Regions from separate parts of the Homo sapiens genome. Here region 2 is linked to region 1. Evidence: fine-mapped expression QTL. A gene starts in region 1. The other region holds a variant in brackets. All regions are shown on one strand. Distances are from middle to middle. Region 1 holds the start of MYO19 (myosin XIX). Region 2 overlaps ZNHIT3 (zinc finger HIT-type containing 3).

Evidence for each region. PIP is the estimated chance that this variant, and not a neighbour inherited with it, causes the effect.
Region 2: its variant is the best candidate, but not a certain one, in a credible set for the expression of MYO19 in whole blood (INTERVAL, PIP 0.71).

What each region holds. Positions count from the first base shown.
Region 1 is chr17:36,526,822-36,543,398 of GRCh38, reverse strand. MYO19 (myosin XIX) reads left to right here and starts at 8,531. Exons shown (of 26, transcript NM_001163735.2): 1 at 8,531-8,638; 2 at 9,295-9,446; 3 at 10,718-10,872; 4 at 15,197-15,335; 5 at 15,700-15,848. The coding sequence starts at 10,861. PIGW (phosphatidylinositol glycan anchor biosynthesis class W) reads right to left here and starts at 8,412. Exons shown (of 2, transcript NM_001346754.2): 1 at 7,807-8,412; 2 at 4,096-6,305. The coding sequence starts at 6,297. The coding sequence ends at 4,783. RefSeq lists an enhancer at 9,165-9,840.
Region 2 is chr17:36,492,829-36,506,513 of GRCh38, reverse strand. It overlaps ZNHIT3 (zinc finger HIT-type containing 3), which reads right to left. Exons shown (of 5, transcript NM_004773.4): 3 at 13,615-13,685; 4 at 12,508-12,588; 5 at 10,692-11,291. The coding sequence ends at 11,110. It overlaps MYO19 (myosin XIX), which reads left to right. Exons shown (of 26, transcript NM_001163735.2): 18 at 1-58; 19 at 1,110-1,217; 20 at 2,494-2,564; 21 at 3,314-3,417; 22 at 5,279-5,445; 23 at 5,555-5,684; 24 at 7,354-7,439; 25 at 7,955-8,248; 26 at 10,108-10,878. The coding sequence ends at 10,263. Among named protein-coding and RNA genes, the nearest start is that of ZNHIT3, 13 kb to the right of the region's middle. The variant A/G (reference allele first, on the strand shown) is at 9,205.

The sequences.
Region 1 (16,577 bases):
TGGATTACTTGAGGTCAGGAGTTCGAGACTGGCCTGACCAACATGGTGAAACCCAGTCTCTACTAAAAATACAAAATTAGCCGAGCGTGGTGGCGCACGCCTGTTATCCCAGCTACTCGGGAGGCTGAGGCAAGAGAATCGCTTGAACCCGGGAGGCAGAGGTTGCAATGATCCGAGATCGCGCCATTGTGCTCCGGCCTGGGCGACGAGTGAAACTACGTCTCAAAAAAAAATTTTTTTTATGTCTTCTGGCCATGTTAGCAGAGTAGAAGAGTGAGTATTAGCTTGAATCTAATACGTATGTATGATGTTCATATACATAGCCAAAATTTGGACATTTTTAGAGAATCTTGCGTTTTATGTAAAAAACAAAACAAAAACCAGGACGGGGGCGGCGGCTAACACCTGTAATCCCAAGACTTTGGGAGGCCAAGGCGGGCGGGTCACTTGAGGTCAGGAGTTCGAGACGAGCCTGGGCAACATGGAGAAAACCTGTCTCTACTAAAAATACAAAAATCAGCTGGGCGTGGTGGCGAGCACTTTTAATTCCAGCTACTCCGGAGGCTGAGGCAGAAGAATCGCTTGAACCGGGAAGGCGGAAGTTGCAGTGAGCCAAGATACTGTGGCCTTCAGTATCTAGAGGTGCTCCTACAGTGGTACATCAATTAATGTACCCACTTTAAACCTTTTTTTTTTTTTTGAGACGGAGTCTCACTCTGTCGCCCAGGCTGGAGTGCAGTGGCGCTATCTCGGCTCACTGCAAGCTCCGCCTCCCGGGTTCATGCCATTCTCCTGCCTCAGCCTCCCGAGTAGCTGGGACTACAGGCGCCTGCCACCACGCCCAGCTAATTTTTTGTGTTTTTATTAGAGACGGGGTTTCATCGTGTCAGCCAGGATGGTCTTGATCTCCTGACCTCTTGATCCGCCCGCCTCGGCCTCCCAAAGTGCTGGGATTACAGGCGTGAGCCAACGTGCCCAGCCTAAACCTTTTAGACTTCATTAGGATTCTGGTTGGTAAAGAACATTAAAAATGACAAGCTCATTATATAGGTGCTAATTTTAATTACTTTGACTACTGAACACACGCCAGGTACTAACAAAGAAGGGAGTATTCACCCTGGGGATTTAAATCTGTGAAAAGGTATTAAAACATATATAAAACATAATAAAATGAAATCCCAAAGGTCTCTTTCCATCTGAGCTTACTTTCCCTAATTTGGGTTTGTCTCTTAGGTCCACCGGGCATACTTAGTATCTTTGGACAAATAGGAATTCAATGAAAACGTATTCTTAAAGGCGAAAAAGGTGGATTTGCTAGGTAAGTTGCTGTTTCTCAAGGAGGTAGCCTGGGTGCTATAAATCCAATCCAATCTAATCTAATCTAATACCATACAATATAATACAATCGATACAATAAAATCAATATCCCAAGGAAAACGCTTAGAAAATTATTTCATGGCAAAATAATTTTTCAAAGTTTTCACTGTGCATCTTCCTGGTTTTAGAGTAGGCACTTATTTTTATTTTCACTATTGCTCTATTTTTAGCCATAACCACCAGTACTGCAGCAAATACTTCTTGAGAATTATCCTATGTACTTTAAAATGAAAAGTATCTGCTTTTAGAGAGCAAACCTCTAATTGACGAAATATATAATTGCTACATTAAAAGACAGTTGTCTGTTGCCTATTATTTCATTTTGATATTGGCATTGTGAAATGCAAGTTCAAAGGATTTGAAAGGCCAGGAAAGTAAAGGCAATCAACAGCAGAACACATTTTGCTGGTACCTAATAAAGAACAGTTGGAGGGACGGAGCTGTAATAAATTATCAGCAAACTACCATTCTTTTTCTTAGGTCCAAATGTGTGAGACGCTAGCCACAAAATGCAGGCATAAATGAGATCTATCTGTTCTCCAGGCTACCTAGGTTTAAAAAAAATGAAAAGTACCAAGGTATTCCTTATTATGTCTTAGCTTCATAGACTATATTTAAACTCCTAGGGAGGAACATAAGGTTCTTGTATGATTTATATAAATACATTGGACATTTATGCTCAATAAAAATAAAACTGGTTGTCATCTTCGGCACACAAGAGCTACTGGGGCACGTGTAGTAGACATCCCCAGTTTATAATTGTGTAAAATTAAAATTGGCCGGGTGCGGTGGCTCGCACCTGTAATCCCAGCACTTTGGGAGGCCGAGGCAGGCGGATCACGAGGTCAGGAGATCCAGACCATCTTGGCTAACGGTGAAACCCCGTCTCTAATAAAAATACAAAAAATCAGCCGGGTGTGGTGGCGGGCACCTGTAGTCCCAGCTACTCGGGAGGCAGAGGCAGGAGATCGTGCCACTGCACTCTAGCCTGGGTAACAGAGCAAGACTGCGCCTCAAAAAAAAAAAATTAAAATTATGGGAGTCACTTTCTGAAGGGCATAGATAGGCTGAGGTCCTGGACAGATTATGTTCTTCTTACTCCTCACTTTGTTATCTTTCCCTCTCCTCTGCCCTCAAAAATTGATAGTTGCAAGGAAAATGATAGTTGATTAGAAGACTTTTTGTTGTTTCATTATAATAACCACAGTTTTATGTGGTAAGACAATCTATGGCCACAGAATGTTATTTAAATTACCATAGTGACCTAAACCTGAGGATCTGTGGATTGGGTTTTCTTTTTCATGAGCTGACACTGGGAAGTTCTGTTTTATCTGTCAAAAATAAACACACCTGGTTGGGTGCGGTGGCTCATGCCTATATCCCAGCACTTTGGGAGACCAAGGTGGGCGGATCACTTGAGGACAGGAGTTCGAGACTGGCCTGGCCAACATGGTAAAACCTCATCTCTACTAAAAATACAAAAATTAGCCAGGCGAAGTGGCGTGTGCCTGTAATCCCAGCTCCTCGGGAGGCTGAGGCAGAAGAATTGCTTGAATCTGGGAGGCGGAGGTTGTAGTGAACCAAGACTGTGCCACTGCACTCCAGCCTGGGAGACAGAGCAAGACTCCATCTCAAAAAAAAAAAAAAAAGACAGTAGAATATTAAACGTCATTATAGGCCAGGATCACGACGCCTGTAATCCCAGCACTTTGGGAGGCTGTGATGGGAGGATCACGTGAAGCCAGGAATTTGAGACCAGCCTGGGCAACCCCATCTCTATTTTTTACAGATTTAAATTAAACCTTAATTTAGCCATAGTTTTATTAAATTACACTGGGTACTTGATGACTCTCATCTTTCTTATTGGTTCTCCTTTCCCTTAGCATGGTAGGTGAGGATGCCTGATGTGGCCCCTGCCTGCCTCTCCAGCTCTCTGCCCATGCTCTTCCTTCTTCTGTGTTCAGCCTTCTTTCAATTCCATTATGTGCTTGGTGCCCTCCCAACGTAGGACTTTTGCTGAGGGAGTCATCCATCTATAATGTTCTCTGCCATTTGCCCCCCAGCCCCCAGACACATAAGACTTTATAACTCCTCATCCCACTAATCAGCTCTAGCTCAAAAAAAAAAAAAAATCTGTGGGGAAAACTTGACTCCTTACTAGGTCAGTTCTTGATTTGACACTCTTGACAACCTATGCTTTTTCTTCATAACTTAGCATTTCACAATAGATGTTTAATGTCTGTTTCCTCCACTAGATTGCAAGCTCTGAGGTATCAGGAAATTTGTGCTGTGCTTCTTAAATCCCTAGCATAGGGTAGGCTAAAAGATGAATTAATCCCAAAGCAAAACTTTGTCTCGTAATTATTATGTGTATAAGCTATAATATAACATCCAATTCAGTCTATTTTTTTTTTTGTAGACAGGGTCTCACTGTTTCCCAGGATGGTCTTGAACTCCTGGGCCCAAGCAATCCTCCCACCTCAGCCTCCCAAAGTGCTAGGATTACAGGCGTGAGTCACCATGCCCAGCCTTCCATCTATTCTTTGGTGCATTTAACTGTCTGACTTCATAGTATATAAGTATTTTATTTTTAAAATTTTTCTTTTTATATCCACCCATCTGCACATTGGAGTGTTTGATTTTAAACACTTGCTTCTTAGTCCTAGGTTTTATTCAAAAATTTAAATTGAGCAATAAACAAGTATTGACAATCCACAGTTCACACTGAAATGTCAACATAAACATTTCATTTTATATTTATTGTAAAAGCAATATACAGTAAAAATACAGAATAGCATAAGGTTACATTAAGATGGAAAGTAAAAATTTTCCTCCCCCCACCCCAACAGTCTTTCAATGTCACAACTATAAAGTTTCTTTAAAATACTACTTAATACATTCTAACAAGTCAAAAGGCTTTGTTTCTTCTTGGTTTTATTGTTGAGATACATTAAAATATTAAGCATTGGCCCAGTGTGGTGGCTCACACCTGTAATCCCAGCACTTTGGGAGGCCAAGGTGGGTGTTATCACTTGAGTTCAGGAGTTTGAGACCAGCCTGGCCAATATGGCAAAACCCCATCTCTACTAAAAATATAAAAATTAGCTGGGCATGGTGGTACATGCCTACAGTGCCAGCTACTCAGGAGGCTGAGGCAGGAGAATTGCTTGAACCCGGGAGGTGGAGGTTGCAGTGAGCTGAGATGGCACCACTACACTCCAGCCTGGGTAACAGAGCAAGACTCTGTCTCAAAAAAAAAAATAATTAAGCATCACTGCTGTTTAGATGACTGAAACTATTTTATAATAAAATATGGTTAACACTGTTGCCAAAAGCACAATTTCTTTACAATTAATATTCCTCATTAAATATTGCCCAAATACTTATATATCCTACTCCTGCTGATCACCAAAATTGTACAGTCTTATCTTGCAAATATAGTACATATACAATTAAACAGTTGGAAAACATATAGAGATTGACCACAAATAAGGCCCACAAGGTACTGCTGTGTAATGTATCTACCATCAGGTTGATCAGGCCAGTTGTTATATTTGACAGCAAGAAAAATATTAACTGTTTTCTGTTTAGAGCTGTGATTAAACAAAGACTGGGTTCCATTCTTTCGGCTTCAGGGACTAGAGATTCTGAATGCTTTTTATTTGTAACAGGTGACTGGATAAGTTTCCAAGAACATGGTACTAGAGCTCCTTTAATTAGAAATTTGGCAAAACTCAAAATTATATCACCCAGTAATAAACTACTAAGAAGGATCAGGCTAGAAGCAACTATCCAAATACAAAAGGCTAAATTTGCCATTCTTCGAGATACTGCTTCTACATTTACTTGAACTACGTAAAGAGATATGAAGAGGCTAATAGCTGCCAGTAAAAGAAAACAGGCTACTTTTATCAAGTCTTTGATATGTGATCGGTTCTTATGCATATATAACCCTGTTTGCACACCAGCCATGTGTATTGCCACATACCCCAGGGTAGAGATTATTCCTTCGCGGTTGGCATTTAATAGACCAACCCGTGTGCCACTACCATCAGTGCCATATAATATTAACCTCTTCAGTGAGGTAAAGTCAAGGGCTAGCTGGTATAATACAGTAATGCCGAGGGCAATAATCCAGGACTTATTTAGGGGAAAAATAATCAACAGCAGTGGTGTTATCAATTTCACAACTATTATGGTAAAGAAAAAGTTCCAGTGAACTCCATACTCTGTTAAATGTTCCTGATAGCCTATTGATTTTATAATGGCTAATCGTCCGATTCCTAGGAAGACTAATGGCCAAACAGAGTACAATGAGTTTGTAAAGTAATGCAATTTGGACCCTTCCATATATTTTCTCCTCCTGACCTCTAGACAAACCATTGCAGACCCAAAAACAAAGCCACCTACTCCAAAATCCATTGCTCCTGTCCCATAGAGCTCAGTTTTGGCAAATCTTCTGGGAAAAAGTGGGAAGTCCACAGCCAAAATAGCAATAGCAGTAAACGCACTGGTAATTACACGGAAACAGGAGATGGCTGGATTGTATTCTGATTCTAGACTGATGTTCAAGAATTTTTCAAGGATTTTTAGGAAAGGCAGTCTGGCATAGCAGGTCCTCCTTCGGTATATTTGATACAACAGCCCTGCCCCAAAGATAATTACACCGAGAAGCTCAAGGAGGATAAATGAAGCCCAAATGGTCAAAGTGGCTACCATGGGAACTATTAGGACAACAAAGTCAGTGAGGAATCTAGTTTTCCAGGTAGGTGAAAAAGAACACAAGTACTGTGAGAAAATGATCAGGAACCCTCTGCACAGGATACAGAATGCAGGAAAGCACAATCCCTGGGTGATTTCCAGCACGGTGGTTCCATTGAGGTTACTGACAAAAGCTTCCTTCATCTGCTTTTCAGACATTTTTCTTCCTGTGAAAACAAGAGCAAAGGAATGGATTTGTGAAAAGCAGCATTCTTGTGTAATTAGCATACCTGGCTTAATTTTACTCTTATTACTAGATTTCAGAGCAGAACTTTGGGCCCTAATGAGTTCACCTAGGATTTGTGATTCCCCTTCCAAGGATTGTGGGAAGAAGCTTAACACTAATGTGTTCAGATAGAAATGTCATACTAATAATATTAAATTATTGGTTACAAAGCTTCAGCTATTCCCTGTACAAGACAGACTCACAAAGAAAGTGAATTTGGGGCCAGGCGTGGTGGCTCACACCTGTAATCCTAGCACTTCGGGAGGCCGAGGTGGGAGGATCACCTGAGGTCAGGAGTTCGAGACCAGCCTGGTCAACATGGTGAAAGCCCGTCTCTACTAAAAATACAAAAATTAGCCAGGCGTGATGGCACCCGCCTGTAATCCCAGCTACTTTAGAGGCTGAGGCAGGAGAATCGGTTGAACCGGGGAAGCAGAGGTTGGAGTGAGCCATTGCACTCCAGCCTGGGCCACAGAGTGAGACTCCATCTCAAAAAAAAAAAAAAAAAAAGGAAAAGAAAAAGCAAAGGAAAAGAGAGCGAATTTGGGATATAAACTCTGAGAATGGCATCATAGGCAGATGGGAATTTCTATTATGGAGCACAGTACGTATCATGAAGATTCTTTGATGCAAATTGAATAGGATTTACTAATGACCTTAAAGCAAATTCAAACGCTAGGGGCCAAGTACATTTTGAAGTTGGGGGCCTTGGTTCCAGTTCAGAGCCTCTCCAAACCTACTGCCTTGGTACAAAACGTGACCCCTGCAGTGATTTCTGGATCCCCAGGCTGCTCCTTTCCTCATTTACAGACAGCTATGTTTTCAGGTTAGGATGGAAGTAGGTACGGTGGGTGCATTAAGAATGGATGTATAGCACATACTAGTGTTAGTTGCTCTTTTATTAAGGGTTGTAAAACACCTCTGAATGCCACACATCATTGTCTGAAAAACGGCATACTGGAAGAACACATTTGTTGGTTAAACATGAACCTAGAGTTTCTAAATGTACCATGAGCTGAATAAGTAAGTGAATGCATGCGTGCATTATGGCCTGTCTGGAACCTGTGACAATATCTCACAGTAACCAACTCAAATCAGTTGACCATTAAAAATAAAAGTCCTAGCCGAGAGAAGTGGTTCATGCCTGCAATCCTAGCGCTTTGGGAGGAGAGAGGATCGCTTAAGGCCAGGAGTGAAAAAAAAAAAAAGAAAAATTAAAAATTAGCTGAGCGTGGTGGTGCGCGCCTGTAATGCCAGGCTGAGGCGGGAGGATCGCTTGAGCCCAGAGGTGGAAGGCAGCAGTGAGCCGAGATCGCGCCACTGCACTCCTACCTGGGCGACAGAGCGAGACTCCGTCTCTTAAAAAATAAACATAAAAATAAAAAGTCTTTTTCCTAACAGACGCCCGACCTGGCCGCGCCCTACCCGTATACCTCACGTACTCCAAATGGTGCCGGCGCCCCCAGCAGACGGTCTACGTGGGAAGGGCAGCCGGACTGCCGCTGCACCCGCCAAACCACGCGGGAACCAGCCGCTTCCGCCTCCCGCGCGGCACTTCCGGCCGACGCAGGCAGCTGGCACTTCCGGGCCGGCCGATTCCGCGCGTCTCCGCCCATCATGGCGCTCGTGCCAGTGTCCCGTGGGCTACCCACTCCTGTCATGTCCTTTGGGCTGGTGCAGGCCAGATCTTCTAGGGCCGTAGCCCTGAGAGGAGCGCCTGGAGAGGAAACGGCGCGCCATGCACCTCACACGGCCCCTCAGACCTCACGGCGAGGCCCTATCAGGGTAATGGTGTCCGCCGGCCTCGCACAACACTCCGCCGCACTCGCACAAGACTCCGCCGCGGCGACCTCTACTGAAAGACCCCCAGTCCTGGTGTCGCCCGAAGGCCCAGGAAACCGTGCTTCCGCGCTTCTCCCCCAGAACGTGGGAAGCTGCCGCTTTACCCTCATTTTACCCCAGGGTCGCAAAACATCTCACCGTAGTTGAAGCCAGCAAGCCGGACCAGGCGTCCCGGCCAAGCCACGTGCGCGCCCCGCGCCGCGAGTGCTCGCCCCGCCCCTAGGGAGGAGCCGGCCGACCCCCGGCCACTTAGCAGTGCCGCAGCCGACGGGGTGCGGTTCGGCGCTCCCAGGTTCCTTTCCTCACTGCACGCTCTTGCCCCTCCTCTTTTCTCTCCTGCCCGTGTTCTTCCCGCCGCCTGACCTGGCCCGCCCGCCTTTCCAGTCTGGCCGGGCGGGGGCCTGAAGCACGGCGGCTCGGGCCGTGGGACCGGTGAGTGTCAACCCGAACCTATATCTGAAGCCCTTCAGACGCGGAAGGGGCTTGGGAGGCCAGTTTGCCCCGCAGCGGTGAGGAAGAAGTAGGCGTCTCCACCTCCCCTTCCAAAGCGCCGTTTCCCTCCTTTTTGCCTTTTCCTTTTGACCCTCTTGTGTCTCACGAGGGGGTAGCCCAGCTCTTGGCTCTTGCTTGAAACAAGTCTTTCTTGATCACCCTCCACCTTTCCACCTGGCCGGCAGGGGGCGGCCTGGGGGGAGAGGGTCCTTGCTCCACTCTTCGCCCAGCTGAGGACCCCGGGAGGGGGCGGCTGGTCCCGGGAGGTGTCAGGGCAGCTGCGCCCTTGGCTGGGGTCACGTCCACCTTCCTGGGAAGGACATACTCTCCCCGTGCCAGGTGCTTCCGGAACGGCATCCCAGCCCTGGGTTTGCGGCACGACGCCCGGACCTTGAGTCCCCGGTTCCCGCCGGGAACCTGGGGGCGGAGCCAGCTGGACTGATGAGATCCTTACCCAGCGCTTCTCAGCGTCTGCCCTCCCACTGTCCTCCATGCCTAGAAAGAAACAGTCTGAGAAGGAGGGACTGGTGATCAGGTTGCCACTTGCCTTGATTCGGTGTTCCATTTACTCATTACCGTCTCCTTTCTGCCCACAGTGTTCACACCCTTTCCAGAAATTCTTGGCTGGTAACCGCGAAACCGACTGGAGCAGGAGCTGGGAGAACTGGAGAAAACTGCTCTAATCTCACTTGACTCCAGCTAGGAGCTGATGCTGCATCGTAATAACATTTGCAGAGCGCTTTCACAGGTATTAGCCCCTTTAACGCTTCATTTAGCCCCGTGAGATCTGGATATTATCACTCCGTTTTGTAAACGAGGAAACAGAGTGAGGCTTAGTTCTTGGGTTCTGTGCCAGGGGCCTTGGGTTTTGGATTCAAACCCCAAACCTGTTGTGCTGCCCCTCTGGACCTATTGCTTGAGATGAGTTCCCAGTTGAAAGAGCTTTGTTCTCTGGAGCCCTCTGCATGGCTGTCCCTTGGATGGGGTACAGTCAGTGTCCAGGGTCAGGATCTTTTAGGGCTGTAGCACCACACCTTAAGTGGTCCAGCACGGTCCTGATACCTGTTTCCGCCTCAATTGTCCTTTTTCCAGCTTCTATGGAAGTCCCTATCCCTGGGTTCTTTAAAGACTTGATGTATTCAGAGCCTCAAGAAAGTCTCCACCAGGGTTAATCCATTGCAGGCACGCTTCACCCTCAGCCTCATCTCTCCTTGCTAGGGGTGGTGCCAAGGCCTAGAAAATTCCAAGTCTGAGGGTCACTTAACCATTCTTCAAAGATTGGCTTAGGCCCAGCCTCACAACACCCCACCTCCCAGATGGATTCATCTCCCTGAAATCCTCACCTTCTTGAAGTTGACACTGGACCGTTCACCTGATTAGCGCTCCCAAATGGATCATCAACCCTTAGTCGTAGTGCTAACAGTGTTTATCCTCTGAGTGAATACTCAGATTCGTACTTTGTGTGGTGCTGTCAAACCATGACCTCATTGACCTTCACAACCACTCCTTATGAGGCAGATTTAACTGTCCCCATTTTCAAGGTAAGAAATTGAGGTAGGTGATGTGCCTGACCCAGGATCACACACCCAGTGAGTGATTGAACTGTGATATAAACTACCACACCACACCTTTCCTGGAGCAGCGAGAGATGACTCCAGCCTCTCCTCCTCACCAACGACTGAAATAGGATATTTCTGTCTAATGTAGAGGATAGGGCACAAGGCTTCTCTGTCTCCCCAGTGTCTTACTCCTCCTCCATGGCACACTGACCCAGAGGGTTTGCAGCCCCACCCCAACCCAAACCCTAACCCTGTAATAAAACTGGCCCAGGGAGCCTCTGAGGCTCTCATAAAAGTTTCCCTGTCTCCTAATTGGCAAGGGAAAGGACAGGCCCACTCTCCGCCCAGGCCTGCCTTGCATCTCATTTTGGTTGCTTCTGCTAGGTGGGAAGGAGTGAGTGAGTCACTCCAGAAAAGCCCTCACCTGTGTGTGGTCCTTGTCTTCTCTCTCATGCCACAGGCGCTGGAGTGACTTGTCTGAGATTCCTCCAGAACTGAGCCCTTTGTTGGAACCATACCCCAGCCCATGGTCCCATGACTAGGTGGATAGTACTCCTTGTACCTCCTGCAACCCAGAACCCTGGCTGACCACTTTGAAGGAGGATGCTCCAGCAGGTAAAACCTCAACCTTAGATAACCCAGGCCCTCAAGCACCTGCAGCATCTGTTGCTAGCCCTAACCTGGAAGGAAGGGAAAGCCCCCTTAAAGGTCTCTTTTCTCTCCTCAAATTGTCTCTCCAGTGCCTTTTACTCATCATCAAGAAACTCTTCCTGATACCTAATTTGAATCTGTCTTGTGGTTTTTAGCTCCTTTCTTTGGGATAGGTAAGGTGGGATGGGTAAGGGAATCCTTAGGGCACTTTGGGGATTCTGCAGAGGAAGTCCTGAGAGATGTCCCTGCCACCTGAATTGTTGAGGCATAGTAGAAGCCTGGGGCTTCCAAGAGGATGTGTTCCTTGAAGCTAAGCCTTAAAGAACTAGAAAGAATTAGCCACTTGGAGAAGGAAAATAAGCACTCCAGGCAAAGAGGTCAGCCTGTGCAGAAATGTAGGAGACTATGAGGAAATATAGAAGGATTCTAATGAGTGGATCATGGGTTACATGATCCCCATGTCTCTGCCTCTCTGAAAAGGCTACTGTTGCCCCAGGCCTGTAGGATTCCAAATCACCTTTTACAGCGGAGCTCTCTCTCATACCCATATCATCCTTCATGTGTAACTCTTGGTCCTGAGAGAGTGCCAGTACTTATTTGCTGACTTTTTATTTTACCAAGTGTTGCCAGGCACTGGGCTGAGGCAGATGTTGAGGTTGGTGCTTGCCCTCAAGGAGCTCAGAGTCTAGTGGAGTCTTGGGTAGGTAAGTGCCTGACATCAGCAAGGTAGCAGCCAGGTGTGGGGCCTGCCAGCATCAAGGGAGCCATAGTAGACACTGCAGCTTGACCTTCCAGCCATATGGCTCCTGGAACAGGTTTGAAGGTAAGAAGTGGGCAAAACAGTTGACTGCTCTGGGCTTTTTTCTTGCTTATTTTTAAACTTTTTTTTTCTCTTATTAAAAAAAAGGTATATCAATACAATGGAATAAAGCAAGTTACACAAAAATATAATACTTTTCAATGTTTTTAAAGTATGTAGGGGAAAAAACCTATGATATTCTCTAAAATATTGGTTATTTCTGGGTAGTATGATTATGGATTTTTATGCTCCTTTTGCTTATCTCTATTTTCCAATTTTTTTTTTTTTTTTTTTTTTGAGATGGAGTCTCACCCTGTCATCCAGGCTGGAGTGTAGTGGCTTGATCTTGGCTCACTGCAATCTCTGCCTCCCAGGTTCATGCTATTCTCCTGCCTCAGCCTCCCGAGTAGTTGGGACTACTGGTGCTGGCCACCACGCCTGGCTAATTTTTTGTATTTTTTAGTAGAGATGGGGTTTCACCGTGTTAGCCAGGATGGTCTCGATCTCCTGACCTCGTGATCCACCCACCTCGGCCTCCCAAAGTGCTGGGACTACAGGCGTGAGCCACCGCGCCCAGCCTCCAAATTTTTTTTAATAATTTTTGTTTATTTATTTTTATTTTAGAGATGGAGTCTCACTCTGTAGACAAGGCTGGTCTCAAACTCCTGACCTCAAGTGATCCGTCTGCCTCAGCCTCCCAAAGTGCTTTTACAGGGGTGAGCCACCGCACCCAGCCGTGAGACCCTGTCTCTTAAATAAATAAATAAATAAGGCCAGGCACGGTGGCTCATGCCTGTAATCCCAATACTTTGGGAGGTCGAGGCGGGCAGATCACCTGAGGCCAGGAGTTCAAGACCAGTCTGGCCAACATGGCAAAACCCCATTTCTACTAAAAATACAAAAACTAGCCAGGTATGGTGGTGCATGCCTGTGATCCCAGTTACTTGGGTGGCTGAGGCATGAGAATCACTTGAACCTGGGAGACAGTGGTTGCAGTGAGCCGAGATTGTGCCACTGCACTCCAGCCTGGGCGATAGAGCGAGACTCTGTGTCAAAAAAAAAAAAAAATACAAAAGCCACTTTTACGCGTGCCTGTAGTCCCAGCTACACAGGAGGCTGAGGCAGGAGAATGGCGTGAACCCGGGAGGCGGAGCTTGCAGTGAGTCGAGATCGCGCCACTGCACTCCAGCCTGGGCGACAGAGCGAAACTCCGTCTCAAAAAAAAAAAAAAAAAAAAAAAGCCACTTTTAGAAGAAGAATAGCTAACCCCTTTTGGCAGATTCCAGATGGCCTTTCTAAATCCTTCGTGTGTTTTTGTGCTTGTGAGTATCTGTGAGGTAGGTACCATTATCCCATTTTACAGAAAAGAACTTTAAATAATTATTTAGAGACAGGGTCTCACTTTGTTGCCCAGTGCAGTGATATCCCCATAGCTCACTGTAGCCTCGACCTCCTGGGCTGAAGCAACCCTCCTGCCTCAGCCTCTAGAATAGCTGGGGTTACAGGCACATGCCATAATGCCCAGCTAATTTTTAAATATTTTTTATAGAGACAGGGTCACCTTGGCCTCCCTAAGTGCTGGGATTACAGGCTTAAGCCACTATGGCCAGCTGGAAATTTTTCTATTTTTATTTTTTACTTTAGAGACAAGGTCTTGCTCTGTTGGCCAGGCTAGAGTGCAGCGGTACAATCATAACTCATTGCAGCCTCGAACTTTTAGGCCCAAGTGGTTCTTCTACCTAAGCCTCCCAAGTAGCTGGGATTACAGGGACCAGATGAGGAGAATTGAGGCAGAAAGAGATTAAGAAATTAACATAAGAGTATATAACTGTAAGAGATAGAGTCAGGATTCAGAGCCAGACAACTAACTTTCAAGTCCAGGTACTTGATCACTATACTCAGATGCCTCTCTGGTTGGATCAGAACTCTTCATAAATTGTGTCTGTGTTTGTGAATGGTTTGTGTAGTGGTGGTTTTTTTTTCCCCTTCATAAAAGGAGAGGGATATGCATAGATATAGCTGTGCTCTGACCTCCGCAGTTACTCTGGAGGCCAAGAGCCTACCTTGTGCATTATAGTGGGCCCAAAGTTCAGAGAACAGGCAACAGTTTTGGAAGAAATGCATTACTGGGCCTCTTGGAGGAAATTTGCCACCATGGCTTATTTCTATGAGAGATTTGAAATTTTAGGCTCACCATTCTCATTGGAAATTCACCTGTTGTATCACAGACCTCTTCCTTCAAAAGCACATTTCAGCAAGATACCTGTCTTCAACCCCCACTCTGTCTTTCCTGCATCCCCAAAGGAGACAGTAGGAGAAATGGGACCACAGGAGGAAGTGGAGGGATGATACATCAAGAATGGGCAAAGGAAGATAGGGTGACTCATGCCTCTAGTCCCAATTACTCAGGAAGCTGAGGCAGAAGGATCACTTGAGCTCAGGAGTTGGAGGCTGCAGTGAGATATGATCATGCCACTGCACTGCAGCCTGGGTAGCAGAGCAAGACTCCATCTCTTAAAAAAGAAAGGAAAAAAAAAAGATAGGCAAGGGAGGAGAAAGGACCTGTTCCCTTGGTGCTTATTCTTGACCTCAGACAGCCGTCTGAGCCAGGCTTTCTCTCAAGCAGACTCGGGCCAAGGGAACCAATTCATTAGCCAGCCTAAATTTAAGCCACAAAAGGCAGGTGATGAAGACATGGGGCTACCTCTCTCAGAAGGTACAGCTGTTTTACATCAAAAGCTGAACTGTCTCTTCCCAAAAAGGCCTAACCCATGGTTCTTTTCCTTTGCAACATTCCTATAGCCTTATTTCTAATAAGGCTAGTAGCCTGGAAGTGCTACTTGCAAGTGGCCGGAGCTCTTGGCAGAAGAGATAGCATTTGTTGAGTACATGCTGTATGCCGGGCACTGACTAAATGCTTTGTATATCTCTTCTTTTCTTCCCAATAACCTTGTCAGTTGAGTTTATTTTCCTTTATTTACGAATAAACAAACTGTGACTCAAAGAGGGTAACTTACCCAGGCTCACAGGGCTACTAAGAGGCAGAACTGAAATTTGAACCCAACCAGACTATGATACCAGAGTCTCCTTCTACTATACAGGTTCCCACCCTTCTGTAGCTGCCAGCTGTTTTGAGTACCAGCTGTCGCGGCCTTCATGTTTTTTGGTTTTTTTTTTTTTTGAGACAGAGTCTTGCTCTGTCGCCCAGGCTGGAGTGCAGTAGCACAATGTTGGCTCACTGCAAGCTCCGCCTCCCGGGTTCACGCCATTCTCCTGCCTCAGCCTTCCGAGTAGCTGGGACTACAGGTGCCCGCCACCATGCCTGGCTAATTTTTTGAATTTTTTTTAGTAGAGACGGGGTTTCACCGTGTTAACCAGGATGGTCTCGATCTCCTCACTTTGTGTCCTGCCCGCCTTGGCCTCCCAGAGTGCTGGGATTATAGGCATGAGCCACTGTGCCTGGCCTCACCTTCACGTTATCTCTTCCAGGTCAATGGCCACAATCCGGGGTCTGATGGCCAAGCCAGGGAGTACCTCAGAGAAGACCTGCAGGAGTTCCTGGGTGGGGAGGTCCTGCTGTACAAACTGGATGACCTCACCAGGGTGAATCCTGTGACACTAGAGACAGGTATGGGCCTCCCATTCCTCAGGAGTATCATCTCCAGGAGGTTGGAGGTGTAATGAGAGTAGTCAGCACAGCTTCTCCAGGTCAGACGGAGGTCGGCAGGACTCCTGATCTGGAGCCAGGTGGGCTGCTCCAGACCTCCGCCTGAGGGAGCATGACAGCTGCACCTGGGCTCCCCAGGGCATGCTTTGCTTCAGATTTGGAGCTCATCTTAATTAGATCTTGTATCTTTTCTTCAGGGAGCTGCTGGGATTTAATGATTCTTGGCTAATTGCAGAAAGAGGGCTGTTACTTAAGTAGATGTGTGTCTGTGTGTGTGGTTTGACTATATTTGAGCCCGAGTTTGCTAAAGGCATCTCTGCCTCAGTCCTGAGGTGCCTGCAGGCCCGGTACATGGCAGACACATTCTACACCAATGCTGGCTGCACCCTGGTAGCCTTGAACCCCTTCAAGCCTGTTCCTCAGCTCTACTCGCCCGAGCTAATGAGAGAGTACCATGCTGCGCCTCAGCCCCAGGTAAGGCTCTGCCGCTGCCTGTGGCCTCAGGGCTCCTCTACCTCCCGCTAAACCTCTTTGCAGTTACCCCTGTCCTTATTCATCTATTCACCAGCAATGTGGTCATTCAGAGTCTGCTAGTGCCACGGCCTGCCCAATAGGAGCTGGCAGAATTTTGAACCATGAAGAACTGACTACAGGACAGAAGGTGCAAAGTGGGGAATAAATAAATATTTGTTTAACTGAGTTTGGAACCTAAAATAAGAGACATAAGAGAAAGGATTTTTTTTTCTTGTTTGCGGTTTTATTAACAGGAAAGGATTTATAAAGGTATTATATATTTGTTTATTTAACAAACTACCTTTTTATTTTTTATTATTATTTATTTATTTATTTATTTATTTTGAGATGGAGTTTCAGTCTTATTGCCCAGACTGGAGTGCAATGGCATGATCTGGGCTCAGCGCAACCTCCACCTCCTGAGTTCAAGCAATTCTCCTGCTTCAGCCTCCTGAGTAGCTGGGATTACAGGCATATGCCACCACACCTGGCTAATTTTGTATTTTTAGTAGGCATATTGGTCAGGCTGGTCTCAAACTCCTGACATCAGGTGATCTACCCACCTTGGCCTCCCAAAGCGCTGGAATTACAGGTGTGAGCCACTGTACCCGGCCCTATTTATTTTGAGACTGAGTCTCTCCCTGTCACCCAGGCTGGAGCGCAGTAGTGCGATCTTGACTCACCGCAACC
Region 2 (13,685 bases), 35 kb after region 1:
GGAGGAACCCCCTGGCCAGAGCAGGGCCCCTGTGTTGACCGTGGTGTCCAAGTTCAAGGTGGGTCTGATGTGCTGATGGGAGGTGCTTGGTTCAAACTCCACGGTCTCACAAATATTTATTGAGCACCTGCCGGGATCGGTGCTGTTTGTTGGGGAGCAGTGGCAAGTCAAGTAGATGTGGTCCCAGTCCCCTGGAGTTTATACTTCAGTGTGGAAGACAGAAACAGTAGACAAATAGGCTATCAGGTATAATATGATGGGAAGTCTAGGGGCCTATGGGGGCACTATGCAGCCTCTCACCCCCTGCCACTGGGGTGCTCATGGGAAGAGGATCAGCTACATGAGCTTCTTTGACCTGGCTCATCTCCAGCTGTCTAGCTTCCTGTTCTAACCCTACCCTCACTCACTTCTCTCACATCGTCTGCTTTCTACCACCTCTCAGTCCTTGCATGTACCGCCCCACCTTCCTGGGATACTCTTGACTACTGCCCCATCAGCTCCACCTCACTCCCATCCTCCACGCCCCTTTTCCTAGTTTAGTCCTTCTCATCCTTCAGACTTTAGCTTTATCACCACCACCTCGAGGAGGCACCTGGAAAACCAGGTTTGATTAGCACCTTCCTACCCAGCCTCAAACACACCCCCGAGGGTGTTCATCCAACATGTGTGGCCCATTGGAGTGAGCTCTGACATGGCAGCAGGCAGCCTGTGGCACAGCCTCCAACACACAGGATGAGCTGAGTGATAACAGTTGTTGCTGGACGAATGGCAAGAAGTTTTGAGATTGTTCTTTTCTAAGAAGATTGCTCTGGGGAGAAGTGGGGAGGGGAAAGAGGAGGAGATTGGATTCAGGGAGAACAGTCAGGGAGGATCACAGGTTTAGAAGGGTCCCTTAAGACAGAGGTGAGGAGCATGGGAAGTTGGGAGAGGAATGTGCTCTGAGCCTGCTCGTTGAGAGCCTGCAGCAGTCATCCCTGCACAGGAGATTCTTGGTCTCAGGATCATGGAAGGGCCCGCTGGAGGCATTTGATGTAGTTACTAACCAGAGCCCAGTTGATGGCCCTGGGCAGCCCCTCTCCCTGCCTAACCCCATGGTCTCTCATCTGCAGGCCTCACTGGAGCAGCTTCTGCAGGTCCTACACAGCACCACGCCCCACTACATTCGCTGCATCAAGCCCAACAGCCAGGGCCAGGCGCAGACCTTTCTCCAAGAGGAGGTAATTAACACCGGGCCAAAGCTGCTTCGCACCAAACCCCATCTGGCCAAGGCCCTGGAGAGATGAAGGGCAGGACATCTGTTCCAAATGGAGTGCACAGAAGTGGTCTCTCCGGCCAGGCCTGACATGAGAGAGGACCCATCTCCCTTGCTGTGGCAGGGCAGGCATGTATGGTTGTGTGGTCTGTGCATAGTAGCCTAGCCAGGGAGGCAAGTTCCAGTGCATCTTGTTTTTTTGAGCCATGTACCCTGATGAGAGACTGAAACTGCCCAGAGGAATGGGTGTCTCGTGATTAGCTGAAAGTCTACATCACCACACAGTCCCCGCACAGTGCAGCCATTTCTCACTGGAGGTATCATTTTTTTCTTTTTTTTTTTTTTTTTTGAGACTGAGCCTCACTCTGTCACCCAGGCTGGAGTGCAGTGGTGCAATCTCAGCTCACTGCAACTTCCGCCTCCCGAGTTCAAGTGATTCTCCTGCCTCAGTCTCCCAAATAGCTGGAATTACAGGTATGCACCACCACACCTGGCTAATTTTTGTATTTTTAGTAGAGATGGAGTTTCACCATGTTAGCCAGGCTGGTCTCAAACTCCTGACCTCAGGTGATCTGCCCACCTCAGCCTCCCAAAGTGCTGGGATTACAGGCATGAGCAGCCACTGCACTCAGCCGGTATCATTTTTTTCTAATCTAACAAAAGCACTCTAGCCAGCAGCTGCCCTTTTCTTGGGATTCCAGGTTCTGAGGGATGTGGATGAGGGGTGAATGCTGGGCACTGCTGAAGGTGTGGCCTGGTAGATGTGGCCTTCCGGTTTGTAGCCAGGACAACTCAGCTCTGTGGTAAAGACCTGGGTTCAGGTCACAGAAGAATCTTCATAGTATAATCTTCCCTGCCTCTCAGCTGTGAACCACCCTCTAATGCCTGCAGACAGTGAAAACAATCCAAACTGGAAATTTGCCTGGGCTGGGTTGTGTGGTAGTGAGACTACACTGAGGGCAGGGTGAGACGGAGCCAGGACATCACTTGCTTCAGCTGTATCAGAAGCCATGCGTCGGATGAGGGGGACTTGGGACCACCAGGACCCTTTCTAGTGGGAGATTTGTTTTCAAGGTCCCTCGATTTCTCACAGCCCCAAGGAGATACCCCCATTAGCCAAGCCTTGGGAGAGCCTGCAGCTTGGCACTGGCCAGGGTCTAAGAAGAAGGGCTGAGAGAATGGCATTTCTGGCCTGCTGGCCCCATGCTGCAGGTGCCTGCCCTGTCTCCCCACCCTTGCAGGTCCTGAGCCAGCTGGAGGCCTGTGGCCTCGTGGAGACCATCCATATCAGTGCTGCTGGCTTCCCCATCCGGTGAGTGGGCTCGATCACGGCACAGTGCAGGGCCAGTACAGAGTGGGGCTCAGGACTCTCATTGGGCAAGAGCCTGCCCAACCCAGAGTGAGATGTGGAAATGAAGAGAAAGAGGCTGGTCTGTAGAAGTCAGCTGGGAACTAGGGAGCAGCACCCATTCGTTCATCCATTCACTTATTGTGCACTATTTTGTACCCAGCTGATGGCTGTGACAAAAGCCACACTGGTACAATGTTGGGGACAGAAGCCAGACTCAGGAGGGCTGACAAGCAATTGGGAGGAAGTGCAGATATCAGGTGCCAGCAGCTGTCTGAGAAGTGTTGCCTTGATGAGGAGCAGGGAGATCTGGGGGAGGCAGAGGAGACTGTGGGGTCAGAGAGGTCAGAGGGGAGATGTGGCCAAGCATGTCTGCGTCATAGGACTGGTCCAATTGTTTGGGGAGAGGCCTGTCAGCCCCTTTGGAGGGAGGCAGCCCGCAAATCCCCTGCTAACACAAGAGATGCTTTGTGTTGGTAGACCAAGGCAGCAGGGAGAGCAGACCCATTTTAAATAGTCTTTATGGGTTTCCAACTAAGTGATCCTAGAAATCGCTTCAAAACCACATTCACATTCAGTGGGGATACTCGGGGAGGGCAGCACCGTGCTGTGTTGTTGAGCAGATTAAATAGAATAACTTCTGATGAGCCCTGAACCGTTAACCTGGCTCACAGATGAAGTAATTCTCTACTTCTGCCTGCTTTGGCCTCCAGGGTCTCTCACCGAAACTTTGTAGAACGATACAAGTTACTAAGAAGGCTTCATCCTTGCACATCCTCTGGCCCCGACAGCCCATATCCTGCCAAAGGGCTCCCTGGTGAGTGGGACCCATGAGTTAGTCATTTGTGCAACCACAGTTTACTGAGCATCTACCCTGTGCCCTGTCTTAGGGCTAGGGGCTGGGGCTTACTGGTGAATAAAACACAGCCCTGGTTTTGGTTCAGTGGGGGAAACAGATTCAAAAAAGACAAATAGCATGGAAAGTGGAAAAGCAGAGCTATGAGCAGGATGCTGTGGGTGGTGCTAGGGAGGTGTGAATTGGGGAAGGCTTCCTGGAAGAGGTAGTATCTGAGAATAAATTGGATTAGCCAGGTGATGGGTGGTCCACATGATAAATGTAATCTGAACAAAGGCCTAGAGGCTTGAGGCAGCAGTGTGGGTATGAGGAACTCCAGCCAGTTCTGTGTTGCTGGTTCATTGAGGCAGAGAACTGGGGCAGGTGAGGCTGGAGTGGCAGGTAGGGCTCCATCAAGGAATCTGGACTTTATTCTCTGGGCAGATGAGCAGGCACTGCAGGGGAAGGAGCAAATGACTCTTATCAGCCTCACACTTTCTGGAGACCACTCTGGGGGCACCATGGAGGGCTGTGGGATTGAGGCTGCAAAGTTGCCCCAATAGAGAGAAACAAGAATTGTGGGCACAGTCGGGAAATATTTGTTGGAAGAAACTGGTCAGTCTTGGTAGGGGCTTGACTAGATGTAGAGGGAGAGGAAAGGAGTAAATTAACTTAGCCTGGGAAGTGAGGAAAAGCAAGAGGAAAAGAGGTTCAGGGAGGCTGAAGAGCCCGGGCATGGGTGACTTGTCCTGCAGGTCCAGTGAAGAAGTCTGCAAGGCACTTAGGCAGGCTTTAGTCTCAAAGGAAGGATCTGGAGGCCCTCATATGGGGGTTGTCGGCATGCAGATAAAAGAGAGGCTGTGGGAGCCACAGGGCCCAGACACAGGCAGAGGGAGAACAGGCCAAGGACAGGCTGCCGGGGGGCCCCGCCTCGGCAGGACCCCAGCCCAGCACCTCTGCCCCTCCCACCCAGCCTTACCCTGGGCCCCTCACAGCCATTGGGGCAATCCTGCTTTGTTTCCTCCCCTCCTGGGCAGTTTTCACTTTCCTTTCACCCTTTCTCCTTTCTTCTCCCTCTCCATGGTTTGCTGTCCTGTTCCGTGTCTCTTGCCCATAGCCCTTCTGGCCCCTGGTTGATTTTGCTGCTGTTTCTCATCTGTGGTGTCTCCTTTGGCAGCCTCTGTCTTCAGAGAGGCACTGGGCATCTAAGGTGGTCAGAGCCCTCAGGTAAATCCTACCTCTCCAGGAGTCAGCTCTGCGAGCTGCGGGAGGGCAGGCAGTGGGACACGGGACCTTTGCAGGGCTGGGATTTTTTAAATTTATTTTTTAATTTATTCTTTTTATTTGCAGTAGAAGATTCCCAAACTAAGGGCTGGGATTGGATCTCCCTTTTCCCATACATGGTGGGGAGTTGAGGGGTCGGGGCTGAGGGAGTGGCCTATAGCTGCCCTATTTGGCCCTCAGGATGTGTGTTTGGGCCTTGGAAACAAATGCTGGCTGAGCAGCCTGGGATTCCAAGCTTGGAAGGAGTCACCCTTCCAGGTGTCAAGCACCCTCTGCCAGCCTGCCCAAAGGGACTCATGGCAGTAGAGGCTGTGGGACACCCCAGGACACACAGGCGCAAGTGGGTATTCCAAGGCTCCACGGAACAGCTAGCACCCTGAGGGACAACAGAGAGGCTGTTTGTGGCTTCCTCCAAAAGAAGAACAAGGAGAAAATGGCTAGAGCCAAGAACAGCAGGAAAGAGACCTGTAGAGTGCTAGGGAGGCCAAAGCCAGTTTCTTCAGGCCACAGAGGCATGTAGAGATGACCATGCACTGATGGGGCCATCTCCCTCCCCCAGAATGGTGTCCACACAGCGAGGAAGCCACGCTTGAACCTCTCATCCAGGACATTCTCCACACTCTGCCGGTCCTAACTCAGGCAGCAGCCATAACTGGTGACTCGGCTGAGGCCATGCCAGCCCCCATGCACTGTGGCAGGACCAAGGTGTTCATGACTGACTCTATGGTGAGCTGGTTTGGGGATGAGGAGGTTACAGAGGCAAGCTGTGTGCTCTCCTCAGCAGGAGGGGGCAGGGGGAGAAGAGGCTGCCCTCAATGGATGCCTTTTCTCCCAGCTGGAGCTTCTGGAATGTGGGCGTGCCCGGGTGCTGGAGCAGTGTGCCCGCTGCATCCAGGGTGGCTGGAGGCGACACCGGCACCGAGAGCAGGAGCGGCAGTGGCGGGCCGTCATGCTCATCCAGGCAGGTAGGTGGGCAGGTCACCTGTCAGCACTGCTCACAGACCCCACAGGATGTTGGTTTCCTTTGAAACATAGCTCGTCGAGTCCCCATCTCCTGAAGCTGTGTCCCAGCCTGAAGAGATGTCCCTGTGGTGTGCTGGGATTCAAATTCCCTGTCCCCCTCACTCATAACGTCTCTCCAGTTCAATGGAAACCAAGTCACTCCACAAACAAAGGTGCTCTGTAAGAAGTGGAGGCTAAGCGTTGTCTAAGCGTTGTCTTTAATTCCTTTCTCAGACCCTGACAGCTGTTTAGGCCAACTTTTTTTCCCTTTATGACAACTCAAACCATTACCTGCTGGGCTCTAGGGCTGGAATGAATTTAAGGAGAAGGTAAAAACCAAAAGGAGTTCATCAGATGAAAAGATGTATTAACCAACATGTTCATAGTGGTCTTATTTTGAAAAGGAAAAGTGTTGGAAAGAACCCAAATATCTAACAGTGGTGACATCATGGCCAAATGATGGACTGGACCATCCCTATGATGCAGCTAAGTGTTTTTGAAGAATATTATAAATTTAATGGAGAACCACTTCCAAAATGATATTCATACCTAGATGTCAAACTACATATTAAGGGCGATGCCCTCCTTTTAAGGTGTGTTTGTGTGTGTGTAGGCATTAAAAAATTGTATAAGGAAGCTGGGCACAGTAGTTCGCTCCTGTAATCCCAGCATTTTGGGAGGCTGAGGTGGGAGGATCACTTGAGCCCAGGAATTTCATACCAGCCGGGCAACATGGCAAAACCCTTTCTCTACTAAAAATACAAAAATTAGCCAAGTGTGGTAGTATGCACCTATAATCCTAGCTACTCAGGAGGCTGAGGCAGGAGAATCACCTCAACCCAGGAGGCAGAGGTTGCAGTGAGCTGAGATTGCACCATTACACTCCAGCCTGGGTGACAGAGCAAGACTCTGTCTCAAAAAAAAAAAAAACAACAAAACATAATTAACCGTGCCTGGTGGCACATGCCTGTAGTCCCAGTTACTCCAGAGGCTGAGGCAAGAGGATTGCTTGAGCCTGGGAGATTGAAGCTACAGCCTTACGGAGGCTACAATAAGCTGTTCGTGCCACTGCACTCCAGCCTGGGCAAGACCCTGTCTCAAAAAAAAAAAAAAAAAAAAAAAAAAAAAGAAACAAAAAGAAAAAGAATATGCTGAAATTGCAGAGAAGGGAATAAAAATTACCACCATCTATTAATTGTATCAGTGTTTGGGTATATGGTGATGTGAGATCAGGGATGCATAAAGCGAACAAATTCAACTGAGGATTAAAAACAAAACAAAAAAAAAAGTTTTTAAAGGCACAGACAATCCAGACCCCTCCCATTCCCTGGGTGCTGACCTGGACCCAGCCTGAGACGGGAAGTGATTGCTGGGCCCTCAGCCAGTCCTTCTCCCCAGTGCCCCTTCACTGTGTTGTGTAGGTGTATTCAAGTGTGTGGGCAGTGTAAGGAATGTTTAAAAGCCAATTTTGCCTTATGTATTGATTTTAGAACCTTATTTGTAGCAATTTATTGAAAAAAAAAAAACGTATTTGAAACTTTGACAGCAACTGTGGTGCTGCTGCAGCGAGGTCACTGACAGCTCTAATGGCCCCTTTATTATCTCTTTCCTGTTTCTGGGCAAACCTCTTAGCCATTCGTTCCTGGTTAACTCGGAAACACATCCAGAGGCTGCATGCAGCTGCCACAGTCATCAAGCGTGCATGGCAGAAGTGGAGAGTAAGTAAGACCCAAGAAGTCGGGGTGGGCAGTGGATCAATTTTGGGGACCAGATGGACCCGAGTGGGAATGCTGGCTCTGCCACTGCAATGCAGGTGGCCTTGGGCAGGTTGTTTAGCCTCTCTGAGCCTCATATTCCTCATGTATGCAGTGGGCACAGTAACACCTACCCTGCAGGGTGGTTATGTAGGTGAAGAGTGGTATAAGCAACTCTGGGAATATACCAAACTCTGGGATGTACACTTTAGAAGACTGGGTTTTATGGCATATCAGTTATATCTTGATGGACTCTTATCTTGTTTTCAAGTAGCATATGTAAGGCCTAAGCACAGTTGCCTGGGGTGTATAGACTTGTGGCATATGGAACCAGTTTGGTTCAGGGCAGCCAGCTGTTTGCAACCAGGTGCCTTCAGTTCACCTTGTTAAGATGATTTGTTAAAGATAGTTTTGATTTCCATTTTCTGCTAAGAGGGCTAGATAAATCTAAAGCTATAAAGGGATATTTGCTTTTTAAGATCAGAATGGCCTGCCTTGCTGCTAAAGAGCTGGATGGTGTGGAAGAAAAACACTTCTCTCAAGCTCCCTGTTCCCTGAGCACCTCGCCGCTGCAGACCAGGCTCCTGGAGGCAATAATCCGCCTCTGGCCCCTGGGACTGGTCCTGGCCAATACGGCTATGGGTGTAGGCAGCTTTCAGAGGAAATTAGTGGTCTGGGCTTGCCTCCAGCTCCCCAGGGGCAGCCCCAGTAGCTACACTGTCCAGACAGCACAAGACCAGGCTGGTGTCACGTCCATCCGAGCGCTGCCTCAGGTACGTTGTGTGTGATGGCCATGACAGCTTTGTTCCTGAGAACAGCAGGAGCAAAGCCTACAAGTTCACAGCGGGAATGAGACTGAGGCTGGGACAAGATCCATCCCTAACCCTACTGGGTAAACCAGAGGGCTGCATGTCCCAATCAGCTGCAGGTTTGGATTATTTATTTTGTTATAACTGGGAATCTTCCAGAGCCCTTTATCTTTTTAAAAACTGCTTCTAATTATTTCAGCATCTCTAAATCTTCTAGTCCCATTTCCAAATGCAATGCTGCGTTTCTAGCAAGCTCCCAGCTGATTCTGATGCTCCATGAACCACACTGTGAGAACCAAGGCTTTAGATGAGTCAGGAGCAGGAGGTGATGAAAGTTTAGCTTAGGGCCTGGAGCGGTGGCTCACGCCTATAATCCCAGTACTTTGGGAAGTCGAGGCGGGTGTATCACCTGAGGTCAGGAGTTCAAGACCAGCCTGGCCAACATGGCGAAACCCCATCTCTACTAAAAATACAAAAATTGGTTGGGCGTAGTGGCAGGCGCCTGTAGTCCCAGCTGCTCGGGAGGCTGAGGCATGAGAATTGCTTGAATCTGGGAGGGAGAGGTTGCAGTGAGCCGAGATTGCGCCGCTGCACTCCAGCCTGGGTGACAGGACGAGAGTCCATCTAAAAAAAAAAAAAAGTTTGGTTTAGGGTAATAATAGGTCAATTACAGAAAAGAGGAAAAATTCACGAGACATAGCAAAAAAGAAACTACCCAAGACTTGAGAGCAAATAATCTAATTAGTCCCACATCACAACTTGGGTTGTGAGGAGTTTGTTACCTCAAATGGCACTGGATTTGGCACCATGTTTTCCCCAAATTGTATTGCTTGGTTTTTTCCTTTTCTGGCTGACGAAATGACAAGCAGGGTCAGTGGTCCAAGTTCTCTGTGGGTTTTTTTTTTTTTTCATGTTATTTA[A/G]TTTTTTGAGACGGAGTCTCACTCTGTCGCCCAGGATGGAATGCAGTGGGTTTAAGCGATTCTCCTGCCTCAGCCTCCCGAATAGCTGGGACTACAGGGCATGTGCCACCATGCCTGGCTATATTTTTTTTTTTGTATTTTTAATAGAGACGGGGTTTCGCCATATTGGCCAGGCTGGTCTCAAACTCCTGACCTCAAGTGGTCTGCCTGCCTTGCCCTCCCAAAGTGCTGGGATTACAGGTGTGAGCCACCGTGCCCAGCTGTTTTTATATAAGCATCCAGGGAAAAGTCAGCCAGCACACTCAGGAAGTCATTGTCACTCAGGGCTTTGTGAGTCACCCCAGTAAGCCAGGCCTCATAGAATTAAAGTGGCCGAGGAAAGGTGAAAGTATGTTGCACTGGGAGGTAGAACCCCAGGGTCTGGATCCTGGTTCTGCCCCATTCACTGGATGATCTTGGCTAAGACACATTTTCTCGGAGCCTGTCTATAAAATGGGCTAATACTCAACCTACTGCATGGAGTCACAGCAAGGAGTAAGTGAAATGACAAGGCAGAAGGAAACACCAAATTTCCATTCAGAGGAATAACTATAGGCCTTAATCTGGATGAAGTCTCCCATGAAAACACACAGGCCTGCTAAACAGAAGGGTAAATGTTTTGCCCTTCTGGCTTTAAGCAGTCATAGGAATGTGACAGACATTCCTCTTAGGGAGCGCCTCCTCCTAGGGTTTCCTCATCTGTCTCACACTGAGTGGATGTAATGCTATTTTAATCCTGCTGTGGCCCCCAATACTAGTACTTGTCCATACCTTCTTGCATTTTTAGCGTCTGCTCTGTGGGGTTGTTAGGCCCTGGCACTCCCAGGAACTAGTGCTAAAGCTGCATCTCTCTCTCCCCTCTAGGGATCGATAAAGTTTCACTGCAGAAAGTCTCCACTGCGGTATGCTGACATCTGCCCTGAACCTTCACCCTACAGCATTACAGGCTTTAATCAGATTCTGCTGGAAAGACACAGGCTGATCCACGTGACCTCTTCTGCCTTCACTGGGCTGGGGTGATCCTTGGTGCCTTTGTTTCCACAAGGCCTTTTCCTGCCCCCTGCCTTGCCAAAGACATTTAATCAGCACACAGCTGCCAGACTATTCCCACAGTGCTCCAAATGCACATGAACAACAGTGACGGCTCCAGCCTTCGACCCAGAGCCCCGTGCCCAGTGCGTCAGTGGGCCTGGGGTTCCAGGCTACATCAAGCACTGATGGTGTCAGGGCTGGTAGTTACCAAATCAGGGTTAAGAAACATCAGGGCCACATTTCACTACCTTCACAGATCAAACTCAGCAGCAGTCATGACTGTCTGTCACTACACTGGGGATCCCAATTCCACATAAGCACTTTTGGAAGAAAACAGCCAAAGTTGGCCTAAAATTGGCGCTGGAATTTGGGCTGGGAAAAATCTTGTGGTTATTTCCTTTAAAAAGGAACAAAACTTTAGTATTTAATTAGTTGATTTATTTAATGTAATTTCAAACAATTAAATTATGAATAATGCAATGTACAGTAGAATCACGTTTTGATTTTATTAACACTGACCAAGTTTAACTCCATATGAAGTGTAAGCTTGATATCGTTTATGATGTCTATCAACTGTACCAAAAGTAAAACATTTAAAAACAATCATCTGAATGTCAAGTTTTCTCTCCATAAAGGACTTGCCACCTTAAGGACCCCAAGTCTGCCTGAAACATGAGCCACATCAATGCCGGTAAAGGCCTGCATGACCTAATCTGCATCCTGGAAACCTCTTTTGCCTGAGCTCCCCAGCCCCAAACTAGCTGGTCTGGGAGAGGGAGCAGGCAGGTTCCAGGAGTCAAGCACACGCTTGAGCAAGCAGCACAATAATCCATCTTAAGACTCCTCATTCTGGGATGGCTCCACAATTCCTAAACAGCAGTCTGCAAACTCCACAAACAAAGGCTCTTGCATGTAAGCTCTCATGAGCTTTGCTTTGTCTTCTCCCTGATCGAGGTTGACCATCAACTGCCTGAGGTGTGGATTGAGCAATAAGCTTCTTAATGTTGCAGATTCCCCTAAAAATTAACAAGAAAAAAAGCCAGTCTGAGTTCAAGTGGAAACACATGGAGATGGCTGAAAAGTGAAGAGCTATTTCAAGTGTAATAAAACTATCAGCAAGGTGTGGTGGCTCATGCCTGTAATACCAGCAACTGGGGAGGTCAAGGTGGGCAGATTGCTTGAGCTCAGGAGTTCAAGACCAGCCTGTGCAACATGGCGAGACCCCACCTCTATAAAATGAAAGGTAAGACCAGCATATCAAACTATTTCCGCATTAAATGCAGTAACAGATACCAGTTCTTGGTATCTTTGTAAATATTGTAACTTCGTGCCACTTCAGCTAAGAAAAAAATGCTTTATCAGCACAATCACAAAGCAAATAGTAGCATTAAGCTGCTGGCATGTTTTCTTTCTTTCTAGCCATAAAAGTTGCCAGTGGTGAAGACGGCTATACGAAATAATCTGAATGATGTCTAAGCATGCCATTTGGCATGCAGCAGCACCAGTAGCAGGGAACCAACAATAATACCTGCATGGTACTTCACAGTCTGTAAAATTTTTCACACCTATTACTAGCTCATCTCCAAACTCAGTCTAACTAATCATTACCATGAGACTAAGTGCAAAACATAACCTTTTAACATGATTCTGTGAAATGGGAAGAATGAAATTAACAGACCCCATGCACATGTAACAGAATGTTGTAAGGACTGAATAAGCAGTGCTACAAAAATGGCAACACCTGTTTCCCCCTAAATCAAATCATGTGATAACCAGTTTGTGTTAAGGGCTGGACTGTGAGCTGAGCACTGGGGATCTGGGAATACAGGTCCCTGCTGTACAAATCGGTATGTGAGAGACAAATTACCATGAAATGTAACAGTGATTTATTACTATTAAGTCCAAGTTGCTATGGGAAACCAAAAAAGTGCCTAATTCTGAAAGAGACACAAAAGGTCAAGAAAAGCTTAGCTGAGTGAAGAAAACTTGAACCAAGGCTTGAAGGAGGAGCAGAATTTTGCCAACCCACAAGACCAGCAGGATTCCAGGCAGAAGGAATGGTGTGGGCAGGCTGGGAGGTGTGAAACCCTGTATGTTTACAGATTATGTGGCTAGATAGTAAGAGCCCTACATGCCATACTTATTCAAGAAATTAAAAACTTTTTAAAAAATCACAATCCTTACAACACAGTAAATGTATCTCAACGATTGACAAGCATAGCACAGACTTACCTAAATTCTTTAAATTCTGCAAAGAAACTCTGTCTTCTTCCTCATCACTATTGAGAAAATCAGCTATAGAGTCATCATCATCTAAGGAATACAAAACAGTCAATGGCTCATGGCTAAAAAGGAGGCCTGGGCACCAGATTTTAACCACTACTTGAACAGGATAAAAATGTGTGCACGCACATGTGATAGTGATAGGGGTATTCAAGCAGGTACAGACAAAAATCCTCTTCTCCGGAGTCTGTGACTATACTAACACTCCTTTTTTAGAAGAGGGAGGCTAAGTGAAAGAATTGGTGATTTTAACAAATGCACTCTAGTGTTCACATCCTTACTGTATATGTGGTCCTGTGGTCTTTAGGCTTAGACCCCGGTTGTCTAATAACTTAATACCCATCCCCACCTCAACATGGCTCCAACCCTGTGATGGGCCAATTAACTGGATGCTCTGTAAAAACCAGCCAAGTAGAATCTCCTGTGCTTTCAGCATGGGCAGAAACTGCTGGCATTGCCTGAACCCAACCTGGAAATTTCTCAAAGGGCAAAAATGGGCCATGCCTTTGGAGTGAATGTTCAATACCTCTTTGGTGGCACCAGAGGGGCTGCTTTCAGAGCCTGGCATGGTGCTTGACACCCAGGAGGTATTAAAGAACGTTTAGATGGCTGGACGGATGGGTTGACAGCCCACTACTGCTGTGAGCTCTGAACCCCCAGCAGCAGCGAGATGATCTAGGACAAAGAAAGCCTCCTGCCTGGGCTGAGTTCAGGTGAACTGACAGTCCCAGCCAGATTCATGGAGGGAGACCAGCAGCTATGGGCTAGAGAAGGCTCCTGCCAGCAGGGCCCACCGCAAACCCCCAAACCACAGCCATGGCCTTTCTCATCTCTGTCTTCTGCCCATTTTTCTTCTCCTGAATACTGCTTTCAGGCTGTTGCCTCAATATCACCCATGATGACATGGCCCCACTCCTGATGCTCAAGGCTAAGGAAGCTGTTCCTTCCCAATGAAGCTATTGTTCTGGATTCCCTGACCAGCCCCACTCTCCCCTTTTCCTTCGACTTATTCTATGTGAAGTCCCTTGTAGATTTGTTTGAAGTCAACCAACCCACCTTTGTTTTCCACAGGCTTTACGGTTTTGGTAGGAAGAGCTGATCTTATTTTTTTCTCAACAGGACGAGTT